Linked DNA regions of Homo sapiens. The protein of the gene in region 7 purifies or fractionates together with the protein of the main gene of each other region. This does not show direct contact. Each region holds a gene or a part of one and is shown on either strand. Other genes may lie near its edges.

Evidence for each region.
Region 1: the proteins of IQCF1 (region 7) and C5orf34 purify together in Homo sapiens (affinity purification with mass spectrometry; one large-scale study listed by BioGRID and IntAct). This does not show direct contact.
Region 2: the proteins of IQCF1 (region 7) and HEATR1 purify together in Homo sapiens (affinity purification with mass spectrometry, with the first as the bait; one large-scale study listed by BioGRID). This does not show direct contact.
Region 3: the proteins of IQCF1 (region 7) and HEATR6 purify together in Homo sapiens (affinity purification with mass spectrometry; one large-scale study listed by BioGRID and IntAct). This does not show direct contact.
Region 4: the proteins of IQCF1 (region 7) and MUL1 purify together in Homo sapiens (affinity purification with mass spectrometry; 2 studies listed by BioGRID and IntAct, with this or other methods). This does not show direct contact.
Region 5: the proteins of IQCF1 (region 7) and INTS1 purify together in Homo sapiens (affinity purification with mass spectrometry; 2 studies listed by BioGRID and IntAct, with this or other methods). This does not show direct contact.
Region 6: the proteins of IQCF1 (region 7) and MZT2B purify together in Homo sapiens (affinity purification with mass spectrometry; 2 studies listed by BioGRID and IntAct, with this or other methods). This does not show direct contact.

The regions. Positions count from the first base shown.
Region 1 is NC_000005.10:43,490,688-43,494,919, forward strand, and holds part of C5orf34 (uncharacterized protein C5orf34), read right to left. Parts: exon of another isoform or gene 4,191-4,232; intron 3,915-4,190; coding exon 3,823-3,914; intron 2,926-3,822; coding exon 2,856-2,925; intron 2,204-2,855; coding exon 2,033-2,203; intron 1,623-2,032; coding exon 1,528-1,622; intron 43-1,527; coding exon 1-42.
Region 2 is NC_000001.11:236,555,710-236,559,941, forward strand, and holds part of HEATR1 (HEAT repeat-containing protein 1), read right to left. Parts: intron 4,129-4,232; coding exon 4,005-4,128; intron 3,427-4,004; coding exon 3,286-3,426; intron 2,821-3,285; coding exon 2,528-2,820; intron 1,637-2,527; coding exon 1,486-1,636; intron 550-1,485; coding exon 391-549; intron 231-390; coding exon 96-230; intron 1-95. UniProt on the Homo sapiens protein: Ribosome biogenesis factor; required for recruitment of Myc to nucleoli. Involved in nucleolar processing of pre-18S ribosomal RNA. Required for optimal pre-ribosomal RNA transcription by RNA polymerase I.
Region 3 is NC_000017.11:60,071,690-60,075,921, forward strand, and holds part of HEATR6 (HEAT repeat-containing protein 6), read right to left. Parts: intron 2,198-4,232; coding exon 2,057-2,197; intron 1,591-2,056; coding exon 1,475-1,590; intron 641-1,474; coding exon 526-640; intron 1-525. UniProt on the Homo sapiens protein: Amplification-dependent oncogene.
Region 4 is NC_000001.11:20,502,050-20,505,151, forward strand, and holds part of MUL1 (mitochondrial ubiquitin ligase activator of NFKB 1), read right to left. Parts: intron 1,261-3,102; coding exon 1,173-1,260; intron 141-1,172; coding exon 20-140; intron 1-19. UniProt on the Homo sapiens protein: Exhibits weak E3 ubiquitin-protein ligase activity. E3 ubiquitin ligases accept ubiquitin from an E2 ubiquitin-conjugating enzyme in the form of a thioester and then directly transfer the ubiquitin to targeted substrates.
Region 5 is NC_000007.14:1,497,567-1,501,798, forward strand, and holds part of INTS1 (integrator complex subunit 1), read right to left. Parts: intron 2,801-4,232; coding exon 2,604-2,800; intron 2,456-2,603; coding exon 2,318-2,455; intron 2,067-2,317; coding exon 1,907-2,066; intron 1,795-1,906; coding exon 1,689-1,794; intron 1,596-1,688; coding exon 1,409-1,595; intron 1,287-1,408; coding exon 1,141-1,286; intron 988-1,140; coding exon 846-987; intron 1-845. UniProt on the Homo sapiens protein: Component of the integrator complex, a multiprotein complex that terminates RNA polymerase II (Pol II) transcription in the promoter-proximal region of genes.
Region 6 is NC_000002.12:130,187,780-130,191,494, forward strand, and holds the end of MZT2B (mitotic-spindle organizing protein 2B), read left to right. Parts: intron 1-727; coding exon of another isoform or gene 728-807; exon of another isoform or gene 808-1,945; intron 1,946-2,689; coding exon 2,690-2,847; coding exon of another isoform or gene 2,848-2,912; 3' UTR 2,913-2,948; downstream 2,949-3,715. UniProt on the Homo sapiens protein: Required for the recruitment and the assembly of the gamma-tubulin ring complex (gTuRC) at the centrosome.
Region 7 is NC_000003.12:51,900,271-51,905,151, reverse strand, and holds the start of IQCF1 (IQ domain-containing protein F1), read left to right. Parts: upstream 1-1,798; 5' UTR 1,799-1,879; coding exon 1,880-1,882; intron 1,883-2,062; coding exon 2,063-2,167; intron 2,168-2,327; exon of another isoform or gene 2,328-2,359; coding exon of another isoform or gene 2,360-2,362; intron 2,363-4,881. UniProt on the Homo sapiens protein: Involved in sperm capacitation and acrosome reaction.

The DNA.
Region 1 (4,232 bases), on a different chromosome or scaffold from region 7:
TGGGTCAGTCTCCTGCACCATGATGTTACTGTTGTCACATATCTAAAGTGAATACATTAAAAGAAATACTTGAAAAATGAACTTGAATACATTATAAAATTATAAACAAATGTAAAAATAAGACAATTTGGGAAAAAAGGATAAAGAAAAAATGTTAAAGTGAAGCATTTACTGGGCAATTCTCAAAATATTTTTCACTGGTCATAGAAAAGCCAAATTTTTTCCATTATTCATCAAGAATAAAATGATTTACTTATATTTGTGATTAATACAAGTGACATTTAAGAATCAAAATAAAGGCGATATTTGGATTTCATTTAAAGTTCAATTTTAAATGTTCTAATTCTTTTAGTTTTTCAAAGTAAAATGCGTTTAAGTTTTATCAAAAAATATTCACACAAAATAAGACTGACTGAGCATTTGCTTACTAAAATTTAAACCAAAAAACACCTGCTAATGCATATACACATATGCTTGTATGCATATGTGTAATTATATGTAACTTACTACATATCTAAAACAAGTATCAAGTTTAATAAAATGAATGATCTGAAATGATTGGCTGAATCAATAGAAATGTTTGCTAAAGAAACTATCTTTTTTGAGGCAAATCATTAATAGCAATGAATGAGCACTTAGACTGAAACACAATAAAACCCAACAGAAAAATACATTCAAGAGGTAACAAAAAGCTATTATTTTGTGAATATTCTCAAGTGAAATCACTAAAATGTGAAGACTATCACAAGATTTACTGTAATAAATTAGATAAACCAAAAGAAAAAAAATTCATAAAAAGCTGAAGACTCTTCCCCATTTTAAGATAATCATTGCGTAATTTTATCCACTTTATAGAAATATACAGAATTTCAGTTATTTGTGGTTGCAAATCTTATTTCAAATTGGCTAGAGGATTAGTTAATTGTTAACACAGCTGACCATATCCAACCTCCACAGCAAATCAGTATGTCTATAACACATTTCATTTTGAAAAGTTACTTGAATACAAATGAAATGATTAAAGCTGACCTGAAGGCCGGGCATGGTGGCTCATGCCTGTAATCTCAGCACTTTGGGAGGCCAAGGTGGGCAGATCACCTGAGGTCGGGAGTTCAAGACAAGCCTGACCAACATGGAGAAACCCCATCTCTACTAAAAATACAAAAATTAGCCGGGCATGGTGGCACATGCCTGTAATCCCAGCTACTCAGGAGGCTGAGGCAGGAGAATCGCTTGAACCCAGGAGGCGGAGGTTGTGGTGAGCCGAGATCGTGCCATTGTACTCCGGCCCAGGCCACAGGAGCAAAACTCTGTCTCAAAAAAAAAAAAAAAAAAAAAGCTGACTTGATCTATTTAGTTATGCTAAACACAAGTACAGCTATCAACTCTGAAACGACTGAAATGCCTTCATTATTATCCACATGGAAAAACTAAAAATATATATAACACTTAAATAATGCTTATTGCTTATTCTCTGTTAGTTAAAAGTAAAACATAAAAATAATTTTTAAAATTGCTTTTCAGTACCTTTCATATGGTTCAGGGTGTTCAATCTGAATTAACTGCTCTTGTCCATCAGGAAAAGTTAACTTACACCAACCTAAGTTAAGACCTTGATTTACCTGAAGAAGTAGAAAGATAAGTTTTATCATTTTAGAACTGAAAAAAAGAACATAAACAACCTATTCTAACTTCATTAACTTAAAGAAATAAGTAGAGGAATCATTAAAGATGCAACAGTTTAAATGTTGTTTACATGAGATATGGGTGTTATTTAACCACCACTCATATAGGTAATTATCAAAGCAAATGAAAATACTAATCCCTTTCTCTATAATCAGTTATCTTTAGAAAAGTGACTATTTGTCAAATCATTCTGATTTTTGCTAGGAAATCCAAAGAGATCAGTAAAGCTTCTTGACAGATTTTATACTTCAAAAAATGAACTGAAATAGTGTGGTACTTTGTTTTCTTTGTTCTGTTTTCCACAGATTACCAATAAAAAATAGATCTAAGTCTGAAGTATACCCACCTGTCTCTTCTCAATAGGAGAGCTGAAATTCCAATTTAGGGTTAGAGTAATGCCATCTAAAAAGATAGCATGTACTTTGTCATCAGAGTAGGCAAGAAATCTTCCCACACTGGGTATGAGTGACTCTTTCAAAACCAAAGGCAGTATATTGCTATCATTTATCCCAGGTACCTAAAACCAAGTAAATAAAAATAGCAGGAAATAGAGTTATCTAAGAACAAGATTTAAATGAATATTAATGACTCTAGGGCAATTTTGGATACTTATTCAGAAGTCAAATATTATAAAATCCTTATATTTTAATTTTTCCAGAAGTGGATACCCAAAACAGTCTTTTTTTCAAGCAGATTCAGTTATAATATATTTGTAAAGTCACTGTTCTGCTCTGAACTTTACATCCATTATAGACAAAAATTAGGAGCTTACAGGTTTGTAATTAAATGAATATAGATACAGAAATCAAAGTCTGAGAATCACTTCCTCCAAATCAGCATTAAGGAATTTATTTTTACGGTTATGAAAATATAGAACACTATAATATCATGGTTTATAATGACTAATGATTTTACATACTTCAAATCCAATCAGTTCCCCTATCCTTTCCTCTTCATGAAAAATAAGAACCATATACAATAAAACTATAACATAAAAGCCTGAACTTTCAGTGTTTGTCTACTAGGTAGGTATTTTTCTGAATAAACCAACATTAATGTTACAAGAATTTCTCACATGACTTAGAGGAAAACTGTTTGAACTCAGAAGTATGGATATAAACAATAAAACAATTTAAAAATATCTTGCTTTTAAAATAATTTTAACATACCATTTTCCAGCAGCATATACGATAGTTATGGCTTAAAGAAAGTCTCATCTTCACACAATGTTGAAGAATTCTGTGAACACAAAAAATACTACTTAAACATTTGCAAATGACATTTTCCAATTCTAGCAACCCATTTTCACTGCCATACAACATTTTAGATGATCAGTAAATCATTTTCACTGAAATGTGTTGGGAACTCTTTTTTTCTCCAGAAATCCTTAAGCCCCTAGAAGGGAAATACTGTTGCTTCCCTTTGTGCTAATCTTACCTACTTAAGGCTATTCCTTTAATTTTTAGCAATGAAATGATTCCATGGACAGAATTTTCAGGAACTCCTTTTTTAAGAGGTGATAGATTCACACTGCCTGGAAAGTTTCACATAGGCTAAAAATGGTAGGGATGTGAATCAACTATCCCTAGGAAATCAAATTACAGAATATGCTTCTTCAAATCTATTTTGGAAATTGCTTGTACATAAATTTATAAAAAGAAACAACAGTCCACTTGCATTCTTCTGGGTATCATAGATTGAGAGAATTTTAAAAACATATGAACCAAAGAACCAATCTATGCTTTATCATTAGTATATTTTCAGAAATCTATTACTCTGAAGATAATAAAGAAGTATAAAAATTTTAAATGTAACATCAAATCTCCAACTTGATTTCAAGGAACAATAATGATGCCACACTTATGCAAAGAAAGGGCACTTACTTCCTCTCAGCACTTGCTCACCATATATGGATATTTCTCCATATTTAAATTACAAAGCCAGAAGTAATCTTAATAAATGACACAAAAATTACCTTATTTTATAAATTATGACACCAAAAAAGTTGACAAATTTTACCGAAGGCATATATTTCCATTGTACCTGCCAATTCTTAATCTTATCCTTAATCACAAGAAAATGTGCCAAGATGTTTAGACACATAACATTTGATTCAATTGAATGGGAAGAACTTACCTTGTTGCCTGTTTAATTAGAGAACCGACAGTGAATGGACTTCCCGGTCTATCTGGAGGAAGGTTATTTACTGAGTAAGTTTTCTCTTCTCTCTGAAAATTAGTTAAAATGAAAAATTTCATTAATAATAAATTTTGGCCTTTATTACTTAGCTGCTTTTCCTTGAAATATGTTTTTACAATAGTGACAAGACGAGTAGTTATTTTAACAAAATAAAGCCCACAAAATCATGGTATTTTATGATGCTTTTTCATTTTCCCATTTTTTTTTTCTCATTAAACTTTTTTAACAGGTCTCAAAATTCTGTGACAAATTTTTGGTCAAGTTGTTTCCATTAAAAAGTACTGATTTTAAAAACTAATAACTTAAAACTACCACATGCAAAAAAGAAAACCAAAGTGGTCCACAAA
Region 2 (4,232 bases), on a different chromosome or scaffold from region 7:
TTGGCAAGTACCACTGTTACACGGCTAGATTGTTCTCGGACTCTTCAATAGGTGGATAACAGCTTTAGGATTTGGAGGAGTGAACCTGAGCTTACCTCAGAGTGCTGGGCTCGGAAGTCCAGGGCTTCCAGGAAAAAGGCGGTTAGCTGAGACTGATGGGAGGTGAGCTCTTCCTTCTTCATCACCCCAATATGCTCTTGCAAGATGCTCATAAACGGACCCATGTGATTCTACCAATAACACAGGAAAGAGATGTGCCATTTTCAAATGATTCCTAGAGTTCAGCGGTGTGTATTTTTAAAAACTAAATCTTCTTCTTTAAGTCAAAGTTTACACATTGCAGTACCACCTCTCCCTTCTCCAAAGTCTTAATACCCAATAAGATCTAACCTTCCAGTTCTTCTCAATCTGCTTGTAAGTTTTTTTGATGGCGGGCAACAGGACTCGGGGTGCAAGTGTGGTAGCCAGTGTCTTTTTAAGAGATGTGAGACGGATATTAGCCTGTGACGCAGAACCCATTTCACTAGTGATTTTCTCCAGATGAATCACCTACAGGAATATAAAAAAAGTGATCAGGGCCACTGCAGATCTTCGCTGACAAACACACACTTACAGAGAGGCTTCATGATGAGGTACTAGTGTTTGGAAAATGCTTAGCACTTTTTAACTACACACAGAATTCCTTTTAAAGTCAGCCCTAAACGTCAGTGGATAAAACTGGGCAGACACCTCTTGCCCAACTTGCGATCAGGGACGAAGGCCGATGGTAGACGCAGACGCACACACAGCACCCAGACAGATGATTTTCTTAGAGGACAGGAATGCAAGGGACCACGGCAAGAGTCAAGTTGCTAAAAAACTGAGAAAGCTCCTCAGAGCACAGGCCCCTTTCTCTGAGAAGGCTACTTTTAAACCCTGGCTGTGGTGTAAGTGAAGCGGTTTAATCATTTGCCCCATGGTAATGAAGGCTCCTAACCTTGTAAATGGCAAATGATCAACACAATGGAACAGCCAGGTCTCAACATTCTTGAGCATCTTCAATCATAAATACCACTGGCCCCTAGCGTGTTGACAGGAAACCGCTGACGTGCAATACAAAAATTCTGCTTTGCAAGATGCCTTAGGATTATACCTCTCACAGTAGAAACAGGGCCCATCAATTTCCACAAGTAATAAAAGGCGGCTCTACCAGCCCAACTCCAAAGATCTCACAGAAGAAAAAAAAGCCAGAATACATTCCGCACAATTAAAGAAGAGAAGCATCTCGCTAAAAAGTGACCCCCATATCAATTTCAAGATTAAGTGGCAAGGATGATGGAAGAGAAAAAGTACACATTTAATAAAAGCAAGCACATCTCTTCAGAAATAAGACTCCTTTCTGTCAAACGGAAACTAACCCTTAAAGAAAAAACAAAATCACTACATTTGTGATCTTTTACCTTCCCCAGCCACCCTGCGTAGCATGTCGTGGCTATCGTGGCTCACCTGGGAGAGAATGCCTTCCAGATAGGGGCTGATGAAGTGCGGGAGAGTCTCCACAACCTTCTGCAGAGCAGCCAAGGCACTGAGCAGGTAGACCTCGCTGGAGACCAGCTCGCTGGTGTTCTTCATTGTTGTCAGCAACGATGGCATCAGGCTAGAAACAAAGTAAGAGCTTTAGAAGAACTTGAAGCAGAAACAGAGGCTAGGGAATGGAGTAGAGGGCATTATGAAAAAAACCAGCAAACTGTGCCTATTACATCGCTATCTGCTTCATAGCCTAAAAAGCAGTGTCTATACATTTTATGTGGCTAAGCACAAGAAATCTCCCAGTGCTAACAGTACGGACACAACAGTAATTTAAAAAATAACAATGTCTTTCATTAACTGAACACTTACTATGTGTCAGGCACTATGCAAAACTCCTTGCAAGCACTGCCCTACAGAAATCCTATGAGGTAGATACTGTCTCTGTTTTATAGACAGCAAAGCTCTAACAGGTTAAGGAACATACTGGCTGTACAGTAAGGAACTACCACAGCCAGGAGCTTCTAACTTCCAAATTTGGCAGCAGAAGGCAGCTTTGGCCTTGCCTAACTGGGTGGGCCCCTCTGCCAAGAACCTTCACCCACTGCTTTTTGACTATACTAGACAAAAGGAAGGAAGAATGGAGGACGATTAACACTGCAAAGTAGTGCATCTGAAGATAAACGGGAAGGCTGCATCTTTCTGTTTGAAGATTAATTATTTTTATTATTATTTCTTTAAGAGACAGGGTCTCACTCTGTTGCCCAGGCTACAGTGCAGTGGTGCAGTCATAGCTCACTGCAGCCTCAAACTCCTGGGCTCAAACGATCTCCCTGCCTTGGCCTCCCAAAGTGGTGGGATCACAGCCGTGAGCCACCACACCCTGCAAGATCAATTCTTTAACAAATTCCAATTTTATGCAACGTCTACTCAGAGGAAAAAAAAAAAAAGTCACCAAAGTGTTATTTTTCAATGTGTGCCAGGCGGTAACAGCTCCTGTTCCAAGTCTCCGGCCGCATACCTGGGAAGCTGGGGGATGGCCAGCGCCTCCAGGGTGGAGGTCACCTCTGCTATGCACAGCAGCGCGCTTCCCAGGACATTCTTCTCCTCCTTTCTCTCTGGAGCAATCAGTTTCACAGCAGTGTTCAGCACTGGGACAAAAGGATCTGGATTTTCTGCACCAAAATTCTTGCATAAAAGCTTTAAGGTATACAACGCTGTCTGTCTGTTGATTGCTTGTTCTTCTTCCCCTTCCTTTTTCTTACGCTGCACAATGGCCAAAAGGTCTGGAACCAGTTTTAGGAAACGGGTAACCTGAAGGGGACAGCCAGAATCCCCAAATCATTAAAGCTGCAAAAAATGTTTGTCCATTTTCCCATTGTCACAGCTTGAGATTGTCTAAATGGAAATCAGACTCGGGGGTCCTGAGTCACACAGTCATGCTAAGCGATGTGCATGTTCTAGCCAGTGTTTCACTTATACAAAGCACCCACTGATCTGGAGTAAAAGGGACTTAGAACTATGCTAAGGCTAAGGCCACGTAAGCTCTGTAGTAAGCAAGAATTCCACTAGGCTGAAATTCCATTCTAAGAGCTCTTACAACACACATATATTCCCGTTAGAATTAACGTCACATTTTAAAACATGTCATGGTATTATATTCAGAAAATAATATACTTCAATTTGAAATTGTACCACTAGAGAAATTGAAGGGAGTTAAATGCAGCTCTTTGATAAAGCAAAGTACAGTAAATGGGTGTGTCCTGGGTCTTCACTCACTATTGTCTTCTTCCAGGATATATTTTGCTGCAGCTTGTTATTCAAAAGGTCCAGCGCTTTGCGGCGAACAGATGGCAGGGGATTGCCCACCAGCCCTCTGATCACAGGAATGAATGTCTCTGTGGGCAGCAAGGCATTGACCTAAAGAGAAATTTTATATTTAACATGAAAAGAAAAACAAATTAAAAAAAAAACCAACTTCAATTAAGACAGACTGCTGTCCACTGCACACCTCCAGGCACCAGGCACTTCCACACACATTTTCTTATTTAATTCTTAAAATAACCTTTCAGGTAGGCATTACCAACCACACATTATCGAACAAAACAAAAGCCTGATGTCAGGAGGAAGTGCCAAAGGCATGCAGCTAAATGACTGAGCTAGATTTGAATCAGCAATCCTAACTTCGAGGCCAGTGATATGTATGTAATATACTTCATACTTTTATTTTATTCCACTTGAATAAAGTAGAACAGTATATATTATATGACTTAATTATTAAAATATACGAGGTACATGTTCTCATAACTGGTAAGGAAACAATTTTTTCCAGACAAATCTATTTCTAGTCATCAAGAGATTGTTTTCTAAGAAAAATCTGAGCTTCATTATATTCATAAAAGGAATTGCTAAGTTTATTCTTAAAAACTTTACATAATTTCACAATAATTTAAAAAACAGCAACAAAACAGTAATTCCAGGGAGAAATGAACACCTACCTTATCTAACAGGTCGTAAGCTTTACTAAGGAGCGCGCGCCAGAACTTCACGGTGAGTTTGTCTGCGTTCCTTTCCATGGACTGTGCAACTGCACTGATATAGCCGAGAACGGTCTCCAGCAACCTGAAACACAGAGGCTCGCTCAGCAAACGGCAGCTGAAGGCACTCAGAGAACTTGTTCATGTCTACCTTATGCTAAATGTTTCAAGTAGAAAGACGAGTTAAAT
Region 3 (4,232 bases), on a different chromosome or scaffold from region 7:
CACTTAAAGCTGTAATTATGCTCATTTACATATAGAAAAAAAAATCTGAGGGCACACAGCACAAATTGTCTTCAGTGGCTATATCCGAGCAGGAGACTAGAAGGAACTTTATCTCAGCTATATAACATTTGAAATGTGTTACTCTAAATTTAAAAGATGTTAATAAACTGTCGTTTGCATCGTATTTTTAAAAAAGAAATAAAATATTGCAGATATATTTGGTGAAATCTCTCTTTACTTTCATCTTAAAGATAGTCACTAGCCTGCAACTATTGCTTTTATACTCAGAAGGAAAAAGAATAGTTTCCTCTAAAAATCTAGAATTGCAAAATATAACAAATAAAAAGCTTCTTATAATTTAAACCGAAATGGTATGATTTTAGTCTTTTTAGGTTACAAACATTTCATATATGTGTATTTCTCTAGACGAAGCTAATGGTGCAAATTAAACTCGTTAGTAACACTTTTCCAATCTGCTTCTAGACACATCCGCAACATTCACTACGTCAATGATAGTCCACTTACCATGCAAAATGTGATATCATCCATATCAGATGATTTTGGAGACTGTAAAATAGTCAGAAAAGCTTGGAAACAGACATTTTGGTAGGGCTCCTCCAAATACGGCTGTCCTGGCACACTAAACGCATACAGAGAAAACAACTCAAACTCAGTCTCCTTTAAAATGAGGCTTGCAAAAGACTAATTAAAAATAGCAGTAATATAGACTATTAGAGTTGGAATATACCCTTGAGTGCAACTATGCTATGGAAAATTATTATTTTGGTTAATTAGTTACTGCTGGGGGACAGGCACAGGGCTAGAATGAATATAGAGGAAGGGTGGTTTCCATACAGAAAGGTTACAGAAGTTTGTGGTAGAAGAACTATGGAGAAAGAAAAATCTTGTTTTAGTTCTGCTGTTCAGTCCTAGGAGGGAAATAATCCAGACAGGTCCTGTCAAGCTAGAATCACACATCTGTACCTGCCTTCCTACTCGCTGGACAGCACTGTGCTATGCAGAGACGAGTTCACATTTGTGCTGCTCATTGTCTACTGCCTACTGTGAGAATCGAGGGTGAGCAGCTGGGGCTGTTTCCATCTTCTTCAAAGAAAAGAAATTGCCCTTTACAGATACATCTCACCAGCACTTAAAATTTGCATGAATATATCCTTCTAAAAACTTAATATGCTTAGAATTTATATCAATAGAAAACAAAATTTTGACATACTGCACATTATGTCACTATTACCACATTTTAGGAATATGGTCCTAGTCTATTTTTTCCTTCTTTACAAGCAATACTAAAATTAACAAACAACATAAGATGATTTTATTAGTAAAGTACATGGGAAATGCAAAGTTAGTTATTTGTCTAAGTTGGCTCTGGCTTCAGGCACAGGGAACTACCTACAAAGGGCCCAATAGAGGCACTATCTTATTACCATTGAGAAACTTGACTGGAGCCACATACCTGAGACATAAGTTTGCCATACAATGTACTGCAGCTCTCCTGACTTCAGGATCAGACTGAGCCAAGTCACTCAACTTCATTAAGAGTCCGGTGTTGCCTAGCAGCTCTGGGAGGTACTAAGAAAAATAAGAGTCAATGTAGGTCAAAGAAAAGCTTCTAGGAAAATATTATGTTTTAGACAGATTTCTTCTTTCTTTTTTTAACTAAATGGCAGTTAAGCACCAAAAGACTAGCTGTTAGATAAATGTCTCCGATGGATATGCAAAGATATGCCAAAAAGCATCAATAATGATCATTACTCCCAGCCTAGGTAGCTGCTGATGCTCTTTAGTGTGGCCGTATGGCTGATGGGTAATGATAATATTAAGAATAATGTTTACTATTTACCGAGGGCCATGAACTTGACACGTATTGTCTCACTTCATCCTCAGAGTAACTATTTTATACATGAGGAAACAAGGCCCAGAGTGGTTGAATAAGAATTGCTAGAGATTAGTGGCAAGATAGAAACCTGAACACAGTGTTGGCACCAGAGTCTGTGCTCCTGGCCTTTCAAAGGAAGGATAAAGCACTTTAAACTACCTTTTGACATTTGGAGCCATTGCAGTACACCAGAGCTGCCAGGGCTTGAAGAATTTCCCTGTGTGTCCAGGAACTACACTGATGAATAGCCGAAATAGTATATGCCAACAGGAAATCCAAGTGCTGTTCATCAACAATTACCTAACAGGACAGGAAAAGATATATTCTGATCTAACTTTTAAAAAATATTATGCTTTTATGGACATGTATGCTCACCTGAATCAAGCTGTATAAAAGAGAGAGTGTGTGTCTGTCGTTTATGTGTCAAAAGGATCACCTCTAAAGGGCCTGAAAGTTTGATCAACGTAGGGGCCTTCTCCCCACCCCAAGGTCTTGCTCACTTCTTCCTCTTTAGTAAAGTAGAACTTGATGAAGTCCTTGTAACTTTTCCTTGAACTAACCAGACATTGGCAGCTGTGAATACACAGATATGAGTATTTCAACGCACTGAAATTTAATTAAACTGCCTTATACATAATAAACACTCAATGAATACACAGTGAACCAATATAACTGCTAAATACCTACTGCATCTCTAACATGACATGAGGAATACACCATGAAGAGAGGGCATATCCCTGCTGTCAAGGAGCTGATAATCTTGTTGGGACAGACCAGGCTAATCCAAGTGTCAATTTATGGACAATTGAGACAAACTGTCACCAAGTGCTGGAAAGCTGGTAAAGGGTTATAGGTGCCACAGGTGATCAGGAACATCTCCAATTGCCAGTGTTACAAAGATGATACACCTGAGAATAGTAAACATACAGAAGCTACCTCATGTTAGTTTCAAAGATTCTAAACTGAAAACAGCCTTACTCCATGCAGCAGACACTGTTGGTTACCTACTAGCATCCATTTCTTCCTTCCCTGCTGGCAGAGTACTAATTTAATTGGATGTCCACCTCTCCCATGTGAGACCTAAGGGTAAACGCTAATTAGTTTAAGAGAGTGGGGCAACCTGGGGCAACCTTAACCCCCAAGGAACATTTGGCAATGCCTGTATACATTTTTGACTGTCACAATTGGAGAGGTGCTACTGGCGTCTAGTGGGTAGAGGCCAAGGATGCTGCTAAACATTCCACAATGTGCAAGACAGCCCCTAAAACAATGATCTGAGCCAAAATATCAATAGTGCTGAGGTTGAGAAACCCTGATGTAGGCTAACTGTGGCTGCACATTGTAAGCATCAAGGGAGCTTAAGTCCTCCTCCAAGTGATTCTAATGTGTAGTGAAGGTTGAAACTACTAGCTGGAGCCATTCACAATAAGACCATCCTCCTGCTTAAAGACTGGTTTAGAGAGGTATTTATATGACCTAAGTCTCTCCAGCAAGATATTGGGGAGTCTACTAGAGAGTTCATGGGACACGTTTCCTTACTGTTAAGTACAAGAGACACAACATAAAATAAAGTTAATTAGCTTCTGCTGAACAGTAATCATTTCTTTGGCATGGGATGTCCAGAATTGGCACAGCCATCTTATGACTGTGAGACATGCTAGCTGAGGATAACCCACATGCTGAGGACGGTGAAGGGAAAGATGAGCCTCTTATTATTAAGGGGCTACAGATGCGTCCCTTGGGACTTGGGACATGGAGTGATTCCTTTTTATTTTTTTAAAAATTGTTTAGTGACTCTGGGATGGCTTTTCTGCTTATTGCAGCCAAAAGCATCCTAATTCACATAATGCTAGTTGATATGTTTTGTGCTCTTAAATATATTCACATACTCATGTGGTAACAGTCTTAAATAAATAACTGGGGTCTTTTTATCCTGCTGTCCCCTTGGCCCCAAGCTACTTCTTATATTTTAGAAGCATCAAAAGTAGACCATAAAAATGGTAGCTTCAGGAAAGGGGAAAAATATTGGTGGGAAAGAGGCAGGGGATTATTTCAATTTATTCTTAGATATATTTTGTTCAAATATATCTTCCATAAGAAATTATAAATTAGCCGGACGTGGTGGCGGGTGCCTGTAGTCCCAGCTACTTGGGAGGCTGAGGCAGAAGAATGGTGTAAACTCGGGAGGCGGAGCTTGCTGTGAGCTGAGATCGCGCCACACTCCAGCCTGGGCAACAGTGTGAAACTCTGTCTCAAAAAAAAAAAAAAAAAAGAAATTATAAGGTTGGGGGGCCTGAATGATATTGGTTTACTGAACCAAACAGAAAGGCATACT
Region 4 (3,102 bases), on a different chromosome or scaffold from region 7:
GTGGAGAAGTGATACATACCAAAGGTGGGTGGTTCGATTCCACACCATCTTGTGCTCCTGAAGTGTCAGCCGCTGAATTACCCCCTTGCAGTTTTCCACAAACTGGCTGTTAAGCGTTTCTTTAACAGACCGCACAGCTCCTAAGTGGACACAAATTCTATTATTTCTGAAGAAGTTTTCTGCCCTCTCCTTTCAGATAATTTAAAATGTGTTTTCTGGTCTGGCACAGTAGGTCACACCTATAATCCCAACACTTTGGGAAGCCAAGTCAGAAGGATCACTTGGGGCCACGAGTTTGAGACCAGCCTGGTTAACACAGTGAGATTCCATCTTTACAAAAAATTAAAAAGTTAGCAGGGTGTGGTGGCATGTGCCTGTAGTCCCAGATACTTGGGAGGCTGAGGCAGGAGAATCACTTGAGCTCAGGAGTTTGAGGCTGCAGTGAGCTATGATCACACCACCATACTACAGCTACCTGGGTGACAGAGCCAAGACTCTATTTGAGACGGAGTCTCACTCTGTTACCCAGGCTGGAGTACAGTGGTGCAATCTTGGCTCACTGCAACCTCCGCCTCCCGGGTTCAAGCAATTCTCCTGCCTCAGCCCCCCGAGTAGCTGGGATTACGGGTATGTGCCACCACATCCAGCTAATTTTTGTATTTTTAGTAGAGACGGGGTTTCATCATGTCGACCAGGCTGGTCTCAAACTCCTGAGCTCAAGTGATCAGCCCATCTCAGCCTCCCAAAGTGCTGGGATTACAGGCATGAGCTACCACACCTGGCCTCAAAAAAAAATTTTTTTTTTAATTTAAAAAATGTTAAAAATTAAGTGTTTTCAGTTGACTTTTGCTAATTCATCAAAACAATGACATTCTGATCACCATAAGTCACATTTTAGAAGCACTCTCCTAAGCACTTTGCATGGATCACATAATTTGTCTTATAACAACCCCATAAAGGTAAGTATTATTTTCGAGATCAGGCAACAGTGGTTCAGGGAGGTTTGGTAATCTTAGCGATCACAAAGCAATAACCCATGTCTTTCTGACCCCAAAGTATGTTCTGGACCATGGACCCAACACCACAAAAGGCTCTTCATATTAGCCAAGATGATCTTTATCAATCTTTTGGGAAAAAGACGTTGTTTTCCATTGACCAATAAGCAAACATACCTTCTATAACAGCATAAGGCACGCATTTTCCTGGAGCTTCTGAAAGAATACTCTTTAAATCTTCACCCAAATGAACTTTTTTAGCTCCCTAAATAAAAAAAAAAAATTAAATTAATTGGCCATTGAACACTGACATGCTCAATCAAACTTACAGGCAAAAAAAAGAAAAAGATTCTATTTTTTTCGTGTCAAGAGAATATGGAAATTGGACAGGAAGGTGACTACTGAGAATCAGATTTCAAAGCTGTGTACATCAACAGGAATGGAGCCATGCCTCTGCCTCTTCCATCACTGCAGAATGGGGGTGCCACATACATTCTTGTTCCAGTTAACCAAAACCTATACTCCTTTTCATGTTAAGACTTTTTAGTGAAAATATAAAAGGTACTAGTCAATTTACATACCACAGACTGAACATCATTCAATCTCTTCCTGACAACACAGAGCTATGATCCAAAGGGTTCAGGTATAAAGTACCTAACCTATCACCTAGCACATGGCAGTGGTTTGAGAACTGGTAGGTGTTATTATTAATATTACCACATCTTTACGAACCAATGCTCTGCATTGTATGTTATTAAAAAAACAAAGCAGGGGGAGTTGCCTTTGCTTCAACAGGAAGACTGTTAACTGGTGCCAAATGCCATTCTACATTTTTTTTTTTTTTTGAGATGGGGTCTCACTGTTATACCCAGACTGGAGTGCAGTAGTGCAATCATGGCTCACTGCAGCCTCAACCTCCCAGGCTCAAGTGATCCTCCCACCTCAGGCCCCCAAGTTGCTGAGGCCATAGGCATGCACCACCACACCTGTCTAATTTTTTTATTTTGCAGAGACAGGGTCTCCCAATGTTGCCCAGGCTGGTGTTGAGCTCCTGAGCTCAAGCGATCCTCCTGCCTCGGCCTCCCAAAGTGCTGGGATTACGGGTGTGAGCCACCGCACCCAGTCTGTTCTACTTTTTGCCTTTTTCATGCTCATAATTAAGTGAGCACGGTTCTTTCTGCTGCTGTCTTCCTCTAACAATCCCTAGTTCTCCTCTGCCTTCCAACTCAGAGCGTCCAACCCACTGCACTTGGGAAACCAATCCTGTTACTGCTGTTTCAAAAATAAGAGAAAAGGAATAAAATCAACAATCATTTCCTGAGCATCTTTGTGCCAGGCACTGTGCTGGGTGTCAGAGATTCAGGACGAATAAAGGACCATCTCTGCTTTCAGGGTATTCCCAAAAACAACTCTTAAGGATGCCAGATTCAGTAACCTCTAAAGAGGTGATGTGATACAAGATGTATATGAAGGTCACTCTGAGTTTAAGCTACTGCTACACAGTAAGTGACAGGAGCAAGGTCAATCAAAATTTCTTAGCCACTTACACTGTGAAGATACCAAAATGACAGCAATAACAACTAACAATTTACTCATTATCTGTCTCCCTCCACTAGAATGTTAAACTCTAGGAGGGCTTGGACACTGTTTGTCCTGTTCACTGCTATCCCCCTAGTGCGGAGAACTGTGCCTGACACACAGCAAGCATTTAATACATTATTTGATTAATAAATTAATGAATAAGTAAGCATTTAAATATACTATGTACCAGGCAATATGCTAGGCACTTTAAATGCATAAACCACTTAATGCCCACACCATCCCTTTACGGTAGACATTATTATCACCAATTACAGACAAGGAAACAGGCTCAGAGAGGTGAAGTGATTTGCCCAAAGTGAGACAGCTAGTAAAGTATCCACCACAGGATGGCCAATTCGAATTTTAAAGGGGGAAGAGGGAGAATATGATCAGAAAGATCTGGAGTTTAATCTAGCGCCAATGCATCCACTGTGACTTGGGACAACTTCATTTATCTGAGTCTCAGGTTCCAAAACCATAAAGGACAGGGAAAATGCAATTTCACAGGATTTTTATGTGGGTTAAA
Region 5 (4,232 bases), on a different chromosome or scaffold from region 7:
GGAAGCTGGGGGTGCGGGACACCAGGCGGCAAAGCCATAGAAGCGCGTGTGCCATCTCAGCCCACCCGTGCGCCACGGGCTGAACGGAAACCAAAGGCCACCACCCAAGATCTGAAAGGATCTGAAAGGACGCACTCCTGTCTCAAAATGCCAGGCCGCGAAGACTGAACGCGGAGCTGAGAGCGGCTGTGCCTCCCTCGTGTTTCACACTCCATAGAGCCCACCGGGAGGCCTAATGCGCTGGTGGCGATGGGAGCATCTCCCGAGCCCGCTTCAAAGGAGACACGGAAATCCAAGGGTCCTACAGCCAGGGCTACAGGGACCCCTGCTTAACCGAGGGACCCAATGCACAGGAGGCGGGTCTGGGCCAGGCACAGGGGCTCATGCCTGTCATCCCAGCACTTTGGGAGGTTGAGGCAGGAGGATCGCTTGAGCCCAGGAGTTTGAGACCAGCCTGGGCCACATAATAAGACCCGGTCTCCACAAAATTTTTAAAAACTACCTTACTATCCAAAGGCAGGAATGAGCTTGAAAAATAAAAACAGAAGGCAACAGGTCTGGGTCTTAGCTCAGAAACCTGGGTGGCTTTTAAGACTCAATGTGGCTCCCTCCTAAATGGACAGAGTGTCAGTTTCTGAGAAAGACGCTGGGCGCTGTGGCTGCACCCACTCTAGAAACGGCTCAACCTCATGCCCACGTGAGTTTCAAAAGCTCCTTCCCGAGACCGAGGAGCATTCTCCCACGAAGCACTGCCAATCCACCGGCCTCCCCAGACGCCACGTGCCCCTCCAGCCCAGAGCCCCATATTCCGGCGTGGAGGGCAAGGCCAGGGACCCTGGGCCTACCTTGGGCGCCAGCTCTGAGCTGTGCTGCAGTGCGGTATAGAGGACCTGCATGTTGTTCGGGTTCCGGGCGCTGGAGAGCTCATTGAAGATCACCAACTTGATGGTGGTGCCCAGGTTGTCCTTGTGCGCGCTCAGCAGCTCCCTGGGTGAGGTGAGGGTACAGACCCTGTCCCCGCTACGCCTGTGCCCCCACTCCGCCTGTGCCCCCACTCCGCCCGCACCCCCGCTCCGCCCACACCCCCACCCACACCCCCACTCCACCCGCACCCCCGCTCTGCCCCGGCTCGCCACGCACCTGATGCACAGCATGAAGTGGTTGAGGAGGACCTTGGGCTTGAGGCGGATCTTGATCAGGTGTGAGATGACGTCCATGTCTTCGGAACCGTGCGTGTTGCAGTTCATGCAGACGGACATCAGCAGGTCCTGGGCCGGCCGGGTCAGCTGCGGGGCCGAGGAGGGAGCAGTGGGCTCACGGCCACCCCGGCAGGAAGACCACGCTGTGGGGCCACACAGAGCCTGCCCCCACCCCCTGCCCCGCCCACCCCCCCGGGGCGCCCCCGCACCTTGGGGTTCTGCAGCCACATCTCCAGCTTCTGCACCGCCAGCAGCCGCACCTCCTTATAGCCGCAGGTGGAGGTGAGGAGCCGCAGGAGGTTCCTGGAGACGTTGTCGATGGGCTGGCGCCGGTTCAGCTGGTCCCGCAGCATGTCCAGGACATACTCCTCCACGCTCTCCGCGAGCTCTTCGTACCTAGGCCAGAGGAGGGAGCGAGGAGGGAGGAAGGTGGCCCCGAGGCGCCCGCCCCCGCCGCCCCCAACTGGGACCGGGCAGGCACGCAGCTACCTGGGCATGAGCTGGCCCTCCTGCTCGGGGCTCAGCTTCTCCTCCGCGATCAGCAACTCCGTCTGGCTGTCCTCCTCCTCCGTGAGGGAGGGGTGTGGGCTGCTCCCTGCAAACCAAGGAGAGGGCTCCATGCAGCGCCTCCCACCCGCCCATCCTCCCACCCCTCCCCTGCCCTGGGGCTTGGACACCCGCCCTCTCTGGCTGGCCGTGTGTCTCACCTGCACCCAGGTCGCCCGCAACGCGGCCCGCCTCCCCCTGCAGCAGCACGCTCCTGGGGGGCATTCTGGTGTTGAAGGCCGTCTGGATGTTGTCCACAAACGTCTTACAGTGAGGGCTGTCCACCCAGATCCGCTCCCCCAGGGAGTCCTCGATGTACACCTGTGTGGCAGCCACACCCTCAGCCCCGAGCCCAGCCGGGCAGCAGCCAGGTTGGGGAACACCCGCCTGCTGCCCGGGGACTGGGTGCCCAGGCGGCCCTCTCCAGCTTCTGGGTGCAGCAGGGACCGTGCCATCACCACCAGGGCTGTCAGACACAGCCCTCTGGAGAGAACACACTTCTGCTTTTCTCTCGCCCCTGCCCCACCCCGTGGCGCTCTGCCATCTTCACCGTCCCGGGAGAGGACGCTCACCTTGACAAAGATCTCGGGCCAGTTCTCGTCCTCCTCGTAGGCGGCCATGAGGAGGTTACAGGCCAGCACAGACACCAGGCTGTTCCCCTTGGCCTTGAAGTTGATGGAGGCGTCCCGCCGCAGGAGGCTACACAGAGCCTGCCAGGGAGGGCGCATGTCACGTGGGAGCTTCGCTGGCCCCAGAGGCAAAGCTGGGGTGGGCCGGGAGGGACACTTAAGGGGGAGGTGAGGAGGGGAGCCAAGGGCCCCAGCGCTGCTCGCCTCCTGCCAGGGGCCCGGCTCAAACCTCAATGACGCCCTCAGTGGCGAAGATGTTGGGCTTGATCTTGGCCAGGTACATGAGGCTCAGGTAGAGGGTGCTGTCAGGCTTGGCGCGGGTGACCTTCAGCTGCTTCACGGCCCCGCACAGCACGCCCTCGATCCTGTCATCGTTGCCCTCCAGCTCGGCCGCCTCGATCTCATCCAGCAGCACCGTGGGCAGCACTGGCCGGGGCAGGCGGTACGGTCAGAACGGGGCCAGGGCAGGGTCACCCCAAAGCCTCGGGACACCGGGAAGACCACGAGGAACCCAGAGCTCTCAGGGTCGGCCCTGCCAGGGACCAGCGATCCACCCTCAGCAAAGTTCCCACAGCGGACAAGCACCCCACCAGATGGTCCCCTTAATACAACAGGCTGCCCCACAGGCCTCAGCACTAGCCCACCAGCCACTCCAGTCCTGGCTCCGCTGTGTCCCACACGACTACCCCAAAGGCTACAGACATTTCCCAGCAAGCCAGGCCACCTGCAGCTTTACTTTCCACTGAATCGTGGCTCCGTCTGGCGGCTTCTTTCTCACTGTGGACCGCAGCACAGTGGCCCTCTCTCCGCACCCACCCCAGCTCCAGTCTCCAGCATGCCCTTCTTCCCACTTTTCCTCCCTCTTTCCATGGGTGCTCGGCTCACAACCTTCCTCCAGACGAGTGCCTGACCCTCCCACATCCTCTGAGGAGCACCAGGGCCAGCACACACCTTTCCTATCGTCGTGTTTGCCACTGTTGGATCGGAGGTTTTCTCATTTTCATTCTGATTCTTCTCTGTCCCAACAGTTTTTTAGGACTGTGTTTTTAAATATCCACAAACGGCCAGGTGCAGTGGCTAGCACCTGTAATCCCACCACTTTGGGAGGCTGAGGCAGGTGGATCACCTGAGGTCAGGAAATCGAGACCAGCCTGGCCAATACAGTGAAACCCTGTCTCTACTAGAAATACACAAATTAGCCAGGCGTGGTGGTGCATGCCTGTAATCCCAGCTGCTTGGGAGGCTAAGGCAGGAGAATCATGTGAACCCGGGAGGCGGAGGCTGAAGTGAGCCGAGATCGTGCCACTGCATTCCAGCCTGGGGAACACAGCGAGACTCTGTCTCAAAAAAAAATAAATAAATAAATAAATAATAAATAATAAGTAAATACATATCCACACACATGTGGACAGAGGCATTGTGATCTACCTTAACTGCGCCCGGGACAGAGACTTGGAATAAATTTCCTGATGCCGAGACAAGCTGGGGGACAAGTGGGCTGCCAGCATGGAGGGACAGCCTGGGACATTTACCACAAATGGCTGGATGCAGCCATCTCTCTGTTTTGCTGAGAATAATACTATAAAGTGATCTACCACTCAGAATACGCTTTTCATAACCACGTCTCCTCTCATCTTCAAAACCTCCTTTCTACAGGAGGTAGTGCTAAAGATAAATAAAGCACCGAGCCGCCGGCGGCCGAGAGCCCGGGCCAGGATGAGGCCTGTGGTCTCTGTCTTCAATCCCCACCGGCACCAGCTGCCCAGGGACACGCCTCATGGGAGGTCTGAGGCTCGACCTCCTAAAGCAGTCCCCCAGCTGTGCCATCCTGGGCCGTTTGCCCCCAGGGCTCCCTGAT
Region 6 (3,715 bases), on a different chromosome or scaffold from region 7:
GAGCGCACAATTCCTGAAGATTTCCAGGATTTTCTTAGTATCAGTTATGGCTTAAAGTTATGTTGGTTTCACATTTCCAGGGTTTGTCAACCCTGTCAGATTTAAAGATAAGCATTATTAGCCAGGTGTGGCCCCATGCTTGTAGTCCCAGCTACATCGGAGGCTGAGGCAGGAAGATCCCTCCAGGCCGTGAGTTTGGGGCAGCAATGAACTGTGATTGCATCACTGTGCTCTAGACCAAGTGACAGAGCAAGACTCAGTCTCTAAACCCCCCTCCCCCACCACTCAAAAAAAAAAAAAAGCATTATTTGCTCTTTTCTGCTTCCCTCTCATCCTTGTTTCCAGAAGGGACTGGGTCATTGCTGAGGGGAGGAGAGGAAGCTCAGATGGCAGCAAGCTGAAGGGAAGCCGACTCTGAGTCAGGCCCAAGTCTGCGGCCTGCCATGCTGCGTGCTGTGGGGAGCTGAGAGCGCATGGGCACCTAAGCACCCAGATTAGGCTGCGGCTACAGAAGATCTGACTCTGTCTGGCCTGGCCTGCGGAGGGACTGTGGCCTCAGAGGAGGATGCTGGCCCAGTGTGGGAGCTGCTGCAGGGTGGCGGGGCCCGTCTGCTCATGGAAGACAGAATCCTTGCCCCTTGACCAGTCAGTGGGGACTAGAATTATGGCAGTTTGTACCACAAGAGATGCGTGGTGGCTATTGTCTGCTTTGTGCCTTTTTCACGAGTCACTGCTGGGCTGAGGTGGCCAATCATCACCCACCACGTGTTCCTGACTGCGCTCCTCCTTGGCTCAGGGCAACCCTGACTCCATCTTTGTTGAGTCAAGTGTGACAAGCTGACAGAGTTCCAAGCATGACACCGCTGTAACCCTCACCACCACCAGGCAAGAATGAGCAAAGATCTCATTCTCTGAGGAAGAACTCCCCGGAAACTCAAAAGGAGGGCCGTCCTATCCCTGCAGGGTATGGGGAGAATTTTCTGGTATTAGCATAGAAAGGGAGCTGGAGGTACCTCTGGAAGAGCGGGGGTCCACGGCATCTCAGACACAGGAGTCTCTGCTTGTTCAGGGTGACAGATGGTGAAACAGAAATGACCTAATGGATCTCTAGACACCCGGTTGCATCTTTTCTCCAGGAATCCAGTTTCCCATTGCAGGGTATTTGACTACACTTGATAAGAGGCCAGGGAAGGACCAGGATTGAGGCTGGGTGTTCTGTTGGCTGAACCCTTGTCTGGAGTCACCCTAAAAGTGATGGCAGGGGAGTTCCTGCAAGGGACTGCCCCAAACCTTTCCAGGATGAGAGCCAGTTGGGATTCCAAAGGAAGAAACACTTAATGCCAGGGTGGTCAGTCCAAAGCATTTGTTAGGGAGCTTACATACAGAGGGGGCTGCAGTGTACCCTCACGAGGGACAGCCAGGAAAGAGGTTGTGCCTAGGCACACCGCACTGAGGGGGTGGGGTGTGGAGTTTCTATGAGGGTGCAAGGAATTTGGCTGGGGTGGGACCAGTTTCCACGTGCTTAGCAACATGTCAGATCTTTCAGTGTTCCAGGCAACAACCTAAACGTGTATCAGTGTCTGGTAACATGCAAGCCCCAGCCAGGGTTTGAGCCTGCAGGGGGAACATGTAGCTGATTAGGTCAGAGTAGTCAAGGCACTTCCTCAGTCAGGACAAAGGAAACACTGGGGGGATGAAATGGGGGACCCAACACTGAGTCAGGCAGGGGACACATGCCCTGTTTAGAGCCCACAGGCCAGACCCTGCCAGGCCAGAGCAGGGGAGAGCCCTGGCCAAGGCACTCCACATGGGGGTCTGTGACCCCACGGGCAAGCCTGCTACCCGGGCACGTTTGTACCTTGGAGGGTCCTCTCAGTCTTGCCGATGCTGTCAACACCCTGAGCCCAGGGAAATCCATCCCATTAAAATAAAGGTCTGGCCCAAGTGTGGTTGCAGATTTTTCTTGGCTATCTTAAAGAGTAAAGTAAGCAAATTACAAATCAAAGAAACTCTGAACCAGTGGTCTTCATCCAAGAGAGCCTCTGGTGGTCAGAAGGAAAGTCTCAAGCATTCAGACTGTGGCAGGAACCCTGTCATGGAATCTGGCAGCTAAACCCGAAAGCAAGAGGCTTGACCACTGCAGAACACTCGGGTAGGTAGGAAACAATGAAAGAGCTTCCAAAATCAAAATCAGAAACCCAATTCCAGGACTTGGTGACTGCAGTACTTCCTGCCTGTCACCATCTAGGGCAGCTCAGATGTGCAGTCCAGCATGAACACACCTTGAGGATGAGGCAGCGCATCCCTGCTGCTGCCGCCGCTGATGGCACCATCAGGGCAGACTAGGTTTGCTGACCAGGCTAGGTGTGGACCAGCACACCTACCTTTCCCTAAATGGGCCCGTGGCATGTGTCCTTTCAAAATGTTCCCTTGGCAGTGTGCTCCTTGCATGGCTTTGCTCCTAGGACACATCCAAAAGGGTCCCCTGCACACTGCGAAGGGCTTCTGGGGCGTGACCTGTCTTTAGTGGTTCTGAGTCTCAGGACTTGGGGCTGATGCAGGGCCTCTAGCTGAAGGGACTTTGATGGAAATGTGCAGACACAAATGTTGCCCAAGGACCACGAGTACAGCAGGTGCTGCAGTTACGGGGCACGCCCATTCCTAATCATTGTGCTTTGTGTCTCCTCAGGGAGAAACAAAGGCAGCGCTGCCCTCGGGGGAGCATTGGCCCTGGCGGAACGCAGCAGCCGCGAAGGATCCAGCCAGAGGATGCCACGCCAGCCCAGCGCTACCAGGCTGCCCAAGGGGGGCGGGCCTGGGAAGAGCCCTACACGGGGCAGCACCTAGGATGGGGCAGAGACTTGTTGCATCTTTGTCCCCAGCAAAGGCTACATGTTACCTCCTTCAATTGATAATAAACCTTTCTGAGATGCAGAGGGTCCAGGTCAGATGTTGTCTACCGTTTTTTTTTTTTGTTTTTTTTTTTATATTAAGGCACACTTAGAATGAAGTTTCTGTGCCGGTCCTGGTTGTGCCACAGTGAACTAACCAGGTCCCTTCACCATGGGTCAACTTCCTGAACCTGATTTGGGTTCTGAGAAAAGGCATCTGGATTGCCAGGTCTTTTATAAATAGACGTCAACAAGCTTCACTTGAAGTGAAATGTGGGAGGTTTTTTTGGTTTTTTTGAAATGGAGTCTTGCTCTGTCACCCAAGCTGGAGTGCAGTGGTGCGATCTCGGCTCACTACAAGCTCCGCCTCCTGGGTTCACGCCATTCTCCTGCCTCAGCCTCCCAAGTAGCTGGGCCTACAGGTGCCCATCACCACGCCCGGCTAATTTTGTTGTATTTTTAGTAGAGACGGGGTTTCACTGTGTTAGCTAGGTTGGTCTCGATCTCCCACCTCATGGGAGGTTTTCTACCAAGGCAGTTGACAGTGCTGAGGGACAGGGTGGCTGTGTGTGCGCACAGAGGGCGAACGCTGCCTTCCAGGTTACCGTGGAGCACTGGGGTCAGCATGGGTGTGTTGTGACCTTCTGTGGGTCACGAATGCTGTGTGGAACTCGGTTAATATTCTTTCCCCCTCTAAAATGTCCTGACCTTACATATTTGACCCACAGCTTTAGAGACTTCATGGACAAGCCCCATCCACAGACCTCCAACACTTCATGCTCCCTTTTAGCCAGCATGACCCATCAATAAAGAAGCCCGAAAAA
Region 7 (4,881 bases):
AAAGAGAGCTTGTGCAGGCAAACTGCCTTTTTTTTTTTTTTTGAGATGGAGTCTTGCTCTGTCGCCCAGGCTGGAGTGCAGTGGCATGATCTCAGCTCACTGCAAGCTCTGCCTCCCAGGTTCATGCCATTCTGCTGCCTCAGCCTCCCCAGTAACTGGGACTACAGGTGTCAACCACCACACTTGGCTAATTTTTTGTATTTTTAGTAGAGACGGGGTTTCACCGTGTTAGCCAGGATGGTCTTGATCTCCTGACCTCATGATCCTCCCGCCTCAGCCTCCCAAAGTTCTAGGATTACAGGCATGAGCCACTGCACCCAGCCCAAACTCCCATTTTTAAAACCATCAAATCTCTTGAGATTCATTCACTATCATGAGAACAGCACAGGAAAGACCTGCCCCCATAATTCAGTCACCTCCCACCAGGTTCCTTCCACAACACATGGGAATTGCGGGAGTTAAAATTCAAGATGAGATTTGGGTGGGGACACAGAGCCAAACTATATCACACCCACAACTTCCCACATCTTTCAATGTATTCCCATATTCTCCACCCCCTCATCCCATTAACTTCACATCCCAGCCTCAAATGGCCTCCTCCTCTTCCCTACATTCCCCCTACAGATCCACATTGGCCTCTCCCATACTCACCCTATACATTTCAAGTGCACTTCTCAGTGACCCCAGGGGCTGTGCCTCTCATGGCCTTACCCTGTCCAGCTGGGTCTTCAGAGGCCGAGATCAGGCAGAAAGGGGCCATGCTTGTGCAGTGGCCACCTTCATCCATCTGATTGTGGCCTTGAGACCCCAGGGACAGAGGAAGACAGGAGAGCACTTGGACCCATTTGAGCCTCAGATGGAGTCCAGGCTGGTCCTCAGGCCCTCATGGGGTTCCTTGGGGACTGTGTTAGGCATGAGTCAGCAATTTAACTCTCCTCTCCAAAGGTAATCATTGGTAATAGTTTGGTATATATACCTTTTTTCTTCTTTATATTCATTTACAACATATAATGTGTATCATGTAATAACTTCTGGCATAAATTATTCAATTTTATGTGTATAATTATGTTCCTAGTTTTGTTTGCATAGTGGGATCAAAAGGAACTTTAGTTTTTTACTTATAAATACATCTTTATATATTTCCTCATTAGTAATATAGATCAAATTCTTATTTTTAATAGTTATGTAGTATTTTATAGTATGAATGAACTATGCATCATTAAATTAATCCCCTATTGATTATTTAAGTTGGCTATATAAGTTTTTTCTTTTCTTTTTTTTTTTTTTTTGAGATGGAGTCTTGCTCTCTTGCCCAGCCTGGAGTGCAGTGGCATGATCCTGGCTCACTGCAAACTCCACCTCCTGGGTGCAAGCGATTCTCCTGTCTCAGCCTCCTGAGTAGCTGGGATTACAGGTGACAGCCACCACACCCAGCTAATTTTTGTAATTTTAGTAGGGACAAGGTTTTGCCATGTTGGCCAGGCTGGTCTCGAACTCCTGACCTCAGTTGATCTGCCTGCCTCGGCCTCCCAAAGTGCTGGGATTACAGGCCTGAGCCACTGCGCCTGGCCAAGTTTTTTCAATTAAATGTTATTAGAAATGACTGGCTTTTTATAAACCTTACAGCAATGGGCCAGTATTTCTGGCATCTTGCCTTTGAAGTCAGGGCTTTGGCCATTTCTGGCAGAAAAGAATGGGCAGCGCTTTTGTCTTTCCCTTGGAGGGGGCTCACTTGTTAGGAGCCATCTGGTGCCTGAGTCACAGGTGCCCTTATGACATCACAGGCCTTTCTTCCTCCACCCTTCCTGCCTATGCTATGGCTGGATGAACACAGATGTGAGGGGATTTGAACCATCTACAATCAATCCATATGTGACCAATGGTAAGAGAAAGCCAGACACACCAGGCTTGTTAGGGATGTCCCCATAGATCTCTCAGGGTGAAGGGACCCCCTGACACTGAAGACTCTAAGAAGCCCTGGAAGCTGGGGATGTGTGCCATATTGAATGGAGAGGGAGGGACCGCAGCCTCACTCTTGCCTTTCCCCTAATGCTGATTGCAGGAGGAGAAGCAGCCCCAAAAGACGAAGGAACCCTCAAAAGAAGATGAGCCTCAGCAGAAGGAGATGCCAACCCATTTGTCCTTAGGAGCAGAGTCAAAGGCAGAGGTAGGAGGAGCCCTGACTTGGATGTCATTGATCCCATGTCCTAGTGCTAGTAGCTAGTGTCTTTTGCATGGTGCTGTTATAAGTGAAGTTTCTGTGCCGCAAAAGAAATAGCACTCAAATATAAAATTTTCTTTTTAATTCTCAGCAAGGCAAGGTACTTCTATAGAAGGGTGCGCCCTTACAGATGGAGCAATGGTGAGTGCACACTTGGACAAGGGAGGGGAAGGGGTTCTTATCCCTGATGCACGTGGCCCCTGCTGCTGTGTCATTCCCCTATTGGCTAGGGTTAGACCACACAGGCTAAACTAATTCTGATTGGCTAATTTAAAGAGAGTGATGGGGTGAGTGGTTTGGTGGGAAAAATGGTTACCGCGGAGCAGGAAATCGGAATGAGTCAGGGTGGAGACTGAGCAGGTAATTGGAATGAGTCAGGGTGGAGCCGGTAATCGGAATGAGTCAGGGGGGAGTAGGTAATCAGAATGAGTCAGGGCGGAGCAGGTAATTGAAAAAGGTTGCTTTACAAGGAAGTTAAGTTTAAAAGTAGAAGGCAAAGAATTGAACATATTGACATACTGATTCTTTGAAGAGAAATTTAGAACTCATACCTAACAACTTCTCCTCTTGCATTTCCTTACAGCTCTTTCTCTTTAAACTTCTTTAACATGTCTTGGCTTAGATGTTCTGCTTGATTTTCCAAAAGAAGAAGCTTCTCTGGATAAGGTGGAGAATAGTTAAGGGAGGTTTTAGTAAGTGCTGTTTTTATGAGCCTCTTTGCACCAACCCACGGACGCATGGTGTGACACAGCACCCAACAAGAATAAATACACCCATTGCGGCTGCCAGGGAAGTGAGAATTGAGGCTATAATTCTTTTCCATTTACTGAACCACTTTTCTAGCCATCCTGTAAAGGGCTCATTTAACCCTGAGTTGTTGGCTAACTCATTGGACAGGGCAGTCAGACCTTGCAATGCCTTTGTTATACTTCCATCAGGGGCAGTGTTGTTTGGGATGAAGGTACAACATTGAGTTTTAATCATGAGGCAAACTCCTCCTCTTTCTGCTATTATCATGTCTAAGCCTATCCTATTTTCCCAAGCCATCCGGCTAGTAGCCCCTAATTGCTCAGCTATTCCTTTAACACCATCTCTAGTGTAGTTAATAAATCGCTGTTGGTTGTAGCATATGTAGTTTATTCAATCTATATTTTTATTAATTGTCTCTCAACAAAATATTGACTCAAATCCTGCAGCTATTTGATTTTAGGCTTTAAATTGATCTGGTATTCCCTGCTAGACTCCAATTGCATTTAAATAGATGTGAGAGTCAAAAGACCCATAAGGGGCTTCTCTCACTTTACGATGTCTTATTTTTCCTTCCTCTGGTTGATGAAATGCCAGGGTGAAAGGGATAGCCAATTGGACTAAAACACAAGTGCCACTTCAGATATTCATCAGAGCGTCCAGTAAAGGTCCACCACAATACCACCACACATCCCCTCGGGGATGAACAAGGGCTGACTGATTGATAAGCTCTTGAAAATTCTTAAGCTCACTGCATCCGTTCAGGTCTCCAAGGAATGCTAAGTTTCCTCCCTGTCGTGAGAGACATGAAGTGAACTTAGTATTGGGAGATGGAAGCTGGATGACCCTCGGGGGCCGACCCACAGGGTGCCAGACTTCAGAATATAGCAGAGAGAAAGAGCATGGCACGACTTGTTACTCCAGGCTGTAGAATCCTGGAAAAGAGCTACCATGCAGCCCACAACCAGTCAACTGGAGGACCACCCTAGTGGAAAGGGGACATTCTGGGCCCCTGGCCTGCTGGGTGCACAAGCATAACAATTGCTTTTGTTTAATGTGCGGACGGAATATTTGATCCATTCCAACCAGACATTTGCATCTTGGTATCCTGTCTTAATTGCCAAAGTTTGTTTTAAGTCTTTCGCTTCTACGATAGCTATCTTGGTCTTGTTGTTAGATGGAGGAGGAGCAATTGTTCCATGTGAGAGGTTTTGGAAGAAGGCTTAGAGGAAGGTGCAGGCGGTGGGGGTTCAAAGAAATGCATTTCAAAGAATCCAATAGGGTCTGTCCCTGAAACCTCAGCCCCCATACCATAACACTGGCTTAAAGAAGGGAACTGGCTTAGAAAAGGGAAAGAACTTTGAGGATTCAAGGTAATAACCTGTATAGGATTGCACTGGTTTAGCTGACAGTTAGTGGGAGGCGGGGGCTGTCCCTCTAGTAAGATGAATGTATGGTTTTAGGAAATTACAAAAACCGGTTGGGGCAGTCCATCCTTGCTCTTTAGTGGTCCACAGAACCCTGGACCAACTATGGTATAAAAGCTCTACATCGCGGGGCAAGACTCCTGGTTGACACTGGGGTCTTTATCAAAATCTCCCAGGATTAAATGGTCCCAATTCACTAATACCCAGTCTGAGGAGAGTCAGGAGGGACAGAGGTACTTTTCTGAAGTAGAGAGCTGTCTTTGACTTGGCAAGTCCCCACAGGGTATAACAAGGCAAGCATCAAATGCAATAGTTTGAAGTGAAATTGACTTGGTTATGTTAATAACTAGATGGTCAGCAATAGAGCGAGGAAAGAAGAAAGAGTAATAGAATAGATGAAAGAGAGTTAAATTCTTCTTAGCTTTAGTTTGATAGGGTTTTCCCCTGGGACTATGGCCCGTGACTCTGGAAGGGGTGGCGCTTTCT